Linked DNA regions of Homo sapiens: region 2 is linked to region 1. The links come from fine-mapping of genetic effects on gene expression. A gene starts in region 1. The other region holds a variant in brackets. All regions are shown on one strand. Distances are from middle to middle. Region 1 holds the start of CUL3 (cullin 3). Region 2 overlaps CUL3 (cullin 3).

Region 1 (2,912 bases):
TGACGTATGCCTTTTATTGTAGCGACATAGGCAAGTATGCCCAGTTCGTTAACAGTACATTTTAATTGCTTGCCACGGGGAAGCTGAACCAGATTTGACACCCAAAGTTATATCCTATATACTAAACATCGCAAGGGTACGACTCAACGTAATGCCAAAAAAGAAAAAGTTTCTGAGCAGAACACGTTTGCTGTCACTGAAAGCGATGAAACAAAGCTACTCCGCAAGGCGACTACACTCATTCTTTGGGCTCCCAAGGCTGAGAAATGGAGAACCAATTGGCCGGTTTGCTCTCTGTTGCTTCCCCCCCACCCGGCCTTCCTCCGAGTGGCGAGGCAATCCTGCACAAGAGTTTGTAAAGTGCTTAGGAAGCTTGTAGGATGAAAGACGCTATAAATACACCCAATGTTACTAGTTTATGACCACGGAGCATTCCGTGGAACCACTGTCACTGCGTCGGGGGCAGGTTGATGGCATAGACCTTCCTGGGGAGGGGGGCAGAGAGAGAGGGCAGCCCCTTCATCACCCTAAAAGCTAGGCTGGGTAAATTTTCAAAGTGTAGCGAAACCCCACGTGAAAAGTTCCACACACGCCCCACACAGGGAGGACTCCGCGGCTGCTAGCAGCGCCGGAGACTGGGCCTACAACCCCGGCAACGTGGGGAGGCGTGGGGCGGCCGAGGGGCCCCGGCCGCAGCCGACGCCCGCGGAGCGGCTGAAGGAGCAGCTCCCGGACGGGGGCGCGGCGCCAGGCCCGGGCTCCCGGCGCGGGGAACGGCCCGGGAGGGCGGCCGCGCCGGGGCCCCGCGCCGCCCGGTTGCCGGGAAGGCTCGCGCCCCGCGGCCGGCGGGCGTGGGGGAGGGGAGGCCGGGCCTGCGGCCTGTTGGGGGACTTCAGCCCGGGCCTCGCGTGCGGCTCTCGGCCCGGCCCCCGGCCCCGGGGTCCCGGACGCCGAGGAGAGACTCACCGGAAAGGCCCGGATCCGCATCTTGGTGTCCTTCCGGCTGCCCGTGCCTTTGCTCAGATTCGACATGGTGCTCGTCCCCTCCCCGGCGGCGGCTTCAGGTCGCGCTCCGCGACGCCGGTGTCACATTTAAGGCGGGCAGGCAGGCTAGGGGCGACGCTGGGGGCGGCGGCGGCGCGACCCCCGGGCAGGGCTGGGGAGCTGGCCGGCCCCTGGGCAGCCGCGGCGGCGGCGGGGGCGGCGGCGGCGGCGGCGGCGGCTCGGACTCTGGCGACTCCGATGCGGCTGGGGGGCTGCGCTGGCGCGGCGGCTCCGCGGGGTCCCCCTCACGTCCGGCTCGGCTCCCTTTATCGCGCTCCTCCGCGATGGCGGCGGCGGCGGCGACGGACAAACATCTCACTGCGCAGGCCGAACGTCGTCCTCCTCCTCCTCCTTCTCCTCCTCCGCCTGAGCGAGACGAGATCCGGCCCAGAGGGTGGAGGGGGGAGGAGGGAGGGAGGAGAGCCGGAGAGTGAGAGATGCCGGGGGAGGGAGGTGGGAGGACGGGAGGGGGAGCCCGGCGGCCGCCGCGGGGGACGCTCAGATCTCGCGAGAAGAGGGCGAGCGCGCTGCCCCCCTGGTGGGCGGGGCGAAGCCCGGGAGAGGGTGGGCGCCACCGGAGGGGAGGAGGGGAACAGGGAACTGAAGGAAGTGGGAGGGGCCGGCGGGGCGGGGAAGCGGAAAGGGGGCGTGGCTGAGGGCGGGAGGATTAAGCTGCCTTTTTGAAAGTGGAGCGCCAGGTCCCGGGTTCTGGGTGGAGGTGGTTGCTGATTGGTGGAGCTCGGAGCGGCGGTTGGGAGGGTCCTGGTCACATGGTGGGGAGTGGGAGGGGGGAAGTTCGGAGAGCGGGAGCGGGATGGTAGTGGGCTGGGCCCCACTGGGCTGGGACAGCAGGAGGATAGTCTTGAGGAGGAGCGTGGGGTGCTAGATGTGTAACTACGTCCCGAACTGGTTCCTGTGTTTTTCTAGGGCATGTGGACTAGGGATGGGTACTTGAGTAGAAGCCTGCAACTTGAAGAGTTTGTGCAGGAGTTAGCTGCAGTGTCGGAAATTAGTGTCCTGTATGCTCAACAAGGTATTCGGACTGGGTGTGCACACCACAGCTCTCAGGACTGGAAGGTGGAAATTTAATCTACGAAGTTCCCTTAAACTGCATAAGCTTCGGGACCTCTTGATTCACTGATATTTTCTGGTGGACCCAGGGCTTATTCATGTTAAAACCTGTTTTTCATTACCATCAGAATAAACTGACAGCTCCATTAATGAAATGCAGCATTTGGTAAATAATGTTAAGTGGAATGATAGAAACCTATCTTTAACCTACCGGATAAATCATTTCTACCATTACCAAGAGTATTGTAGATTTTTAAAGCCAAAATTACCGTCTGATTCAGTTGCTGTATATTTGAAAAGGTTTTGGCTTTTGGTTTTGGAGGAGAGGCGTTTGGTCGCTTTATAGTCAAAATGTCTAATTTGACTTATCGGTTTTGCTGTCCATTTGTTATGAATTGTACTTCCTCATTTACCTACTTGCCCAATTGCTGTTATGTTTGGGTTTCTGACTCTGCAAGGGAATACGTGAGTTCTTATTAAAGTTTGTGTTCTTCCTATTTTAAAGAAGCATATGTTTGGGGGATGGATATCTACATTTAGAAGCTGGAATTTTAATACTTTTAAATAGCAAACAATATAAAGTGAAATACACTTATTTGTTGACTGTAAGGTTGAATTTGCCCTAAATTAACTTAATCCTGATGACTAAGCTTATGAGTGTTGTGCTTAAAGCCCCTTCTTGCTTAAAACGCCCCACTGCAAATACCATATTTTCTTGTTTTTTTTTTTTTTTTGTGGGAGTTTTTTGGTATTGGCTAATTAAAGCAGGAGCTTAAGAAACAAGAATGTTGCTTAAG
Region 2 (2,912 bases), 79 kb before region 1:
AACTCCCAACCTCAGGTGATCCGCCGCCTTTGCCTCCCAAAGTGCTGGGATTACAAGCGTGAGCCACTGTGCCTGGCTGCCCTTACTTTTAAATAAGGGCAAAAGGATTCTGTGGCAGGTTGTATTAATATATTTGAAAAACGGAAGACCAAATGAATGCATAAATTAATAGACTTTTCTATTCTGTGCAACCTTAGTGATTTTGTTCCCTTATTGCAGCTACTGCCTGTAAAACCTGTGACGACATGTTGCTTTTCCCTTTGGTGTCACAAATTCCAAAATGAAGTCAAAAGAGACCAATTCAGATGTGAGCATGTTTTATGCTTCAGTTGATTTTCTATGCTGTCGTGAGCTCCTCAGGTTCCAGAGATATCATATATCACAAAGGCTTGAAATTGAGCTACACCAACCATTTTCTGAGATGAGATCTACTCTATCTATGCCTTAATATTCTTGGCATCCAATTATTGTTTGACATATAACCTTCAGAACCAGATGAGAGCAAACAACACTCTCTACTAGAAAGTTTTCTAGTTCTTTATCTTCAGCATGCCTAACTCTCAGTCATAAAAATGACTGTTTACCAACTACAGCTGTGTAGTTGTTCAGTTTTTTTTTTTTTTTTGAGACGGAGTTTCGCTATTGTTGCCCCAGCTGGAGTGCAGTGGCGTCATCTTGGCTCACTGCAACCTCCGCCTCCTGGGTTCAAGTGATTCTCCTGCCTCAGCCTCCTGAGTAGCTGGGATTACAGGCATCCACCACCATGCCCAGCTAATTTTGTATTTTTAGTAGAGATGGGGTTTCACCAAGTTGGTCAGGCTGGTCTCAAACTCCCAACCTCAGGTGGTCTGCCCACCTCGGCCTCCCAAAGTGCTGAGATTACAGGCATGAGCCACCATACCTGGACAGTTGTTCAGTTTTTTTGAGACAAGGTCTTGCTCTGTCGCCCAGCATAGAGTGCAGTCACGCGATCACAGCTCACTGCAGCCTTGAACTCCTGAGCTCAAGTGATCCTCTGCCTCAGCTTCTGGGACAACAGGTGTATACCACTGTGTGCCACTAATTTTTTTCTTTTTTCTTTTTTTTTGTAGAGATGGAGTCTCACTAAGTTAACAAGGCTAATTTCAAACTCCTGGCCTCAAGAGAGCCTCCTGTCTTGGCCTCCCCAAATGCTGGGATTATAGGCATGAGCCACCAAGCCCATCCAGTTGCTTGTTTTTGAAGCCAATTACACATTAAGTGAAATGTCTAACTACGTTTGGGCATGTCAAGTATTTCAAACAATATTTTTTAATAGACCATGGCAC[C/A]CATTTAAGCACAGCAATGGGTCATGCTTAATTTTTATCTGTGAAATGTCCTAATTTTACATATAATTTTATATCTTTAAATAAAATTAAATGTTATTTTCAAATGCATTACTACTTACCCCTTTGACTCCCTTTTTCAGCTTATCATCAATAAATAATGAGAGGTATTCAGGAGACCTGGAGTTGAGGTTGAGAAAATACTCAAAGTCACCCGCAATAGTTTGTTTAAAGAGACGGTCATTGTTGAATGATTCCAGGAGGAAGCGATCGAACCTACTCTTCAGATCCAATAAGCCCTTAGAAATAAAAACAAAATTTAGGACACATTATAATAATTTTTCCATAAATAATACACTTATGACCATGTATGTTTATCTTAACTTTGCTGGTAATAAACATGTATATTCATTTTTAAACTTACAGTTTTGATATTATTTTCAAGCCTATATCTAAGCCTCTATTAAAAATGTCAATGAGAGAAGTATTATAACTTCCATATATGTATTAATACAATGCAAACGAACCAAAGAACCTCCTCACTGTTTCTCATTCTCCTGTCTTGATGGAATGGGTTAGCCAGTGAAAAAAATTAGCTTAAAAAATGTACCAAAAAAAGCTGATTATGTTAAAACACAAAACATGGCACATAATTTATTCATAGTACTCCTTGAAAACAAAACATTTTCAAACAAAAAATACTTAAACCAGTTGTTTTTTCCAATATACTACAGTATACAAACACTAAGGCATACCAAAGAACCTCACATTCACTATTGAGGCTATTTAAACAAGGTCTTCATCAAAGAAGTTAAATGAAAAGTAGCAGCTGAATTTTAGCTCCCTGATATAAATACGCACACCTTGCAAAATCCTAAAATATGTAGGATAATTACAAATATTAATTTACTACTGGGACAATTAAGTTGAAAGTACACAATACACAGCATGGTAAAAGTGGCCTTTTTAGCACTTGTCAAAATGCCTTTATCATAAACACAGAGAATCTTCTGGGTTTACTTACCTGGATATAGTCAACAGGATTCTTTCCTTCTCCTTCTTCAGAAACAAGAGCTTTACCTTGCTCCCTCAAATAGGAACTCATACACTCACACATTGTTTTCAAACCATTTGGCACACGACTAAATAACTTGTACATGCAACCAAGGTCTACAAATCAGAAAACACAAATTGGCTACATTAAAGATTAAAGAAAAAAACACGAATCTCTGTTCACGCTATAATACTGAGAGAAGCTTATTTCTCCATTACCCCCATTTGCTGACCACATGACTATTAAAAATATACATATATTGATATGAAAACATGAAGAAGTAGGCTAGTTAATGGTTATTATTGTAATTTATAAAACACAACTTTTAGATGAGATGCTTTGAAACCATCAATTAAATGTCCTAGCAAATTTAAATTTACATGGAAGAGATGTCAAAAACCATAATAAACAAGTAATGTCACAAAAACATGGCAACTGCAGTTTTGAGTTCATAAATACTTTATCCTACATAACTCTAATGCAGACCTAATGACACTACAAAACGTCTACAAAAAGGGTCACTAATTAAGAGGTAATTGGTAGTCCCTGTAATG

What was found. PIP is the estimated chance that this variant, and not a neighbour inherited with it, causes the effect.
Region 2: its variant is the best candidate, but not a certain one, in a credible set for the expression of CUL3 in whole blood (INTERVAL, PIP 0.87).

The regions. Positions count from the first base shown.
Region 1 is chr2:224,583,978-224,586,889 of GRCh38, forward strand. CUL3 (cullin 3) reads right to left here and starts at 1,386. Exons shown (of 16, transcript NM_003590.5): 1 at 967-1,386. The coding sequence starts at 1,032. RefSeq lists silencers at 850-1,109, 1,440-1,859.
Region 2 is chr2:224,504,530-224,507,441 of GRCh38, forward strand. CUL3 (cullin 3) reads right to left here. Exons shown (of 16, transcript NM_003590.5): 7 at 2,329-2,474; 8 at 1,427-1,603. Among named protein-coding and RNA genes, the nearest start is that of CUL3, 79 kb to the right of the region's middle. The variant C/A (reference allele first, on the strand shown) is at 1,308.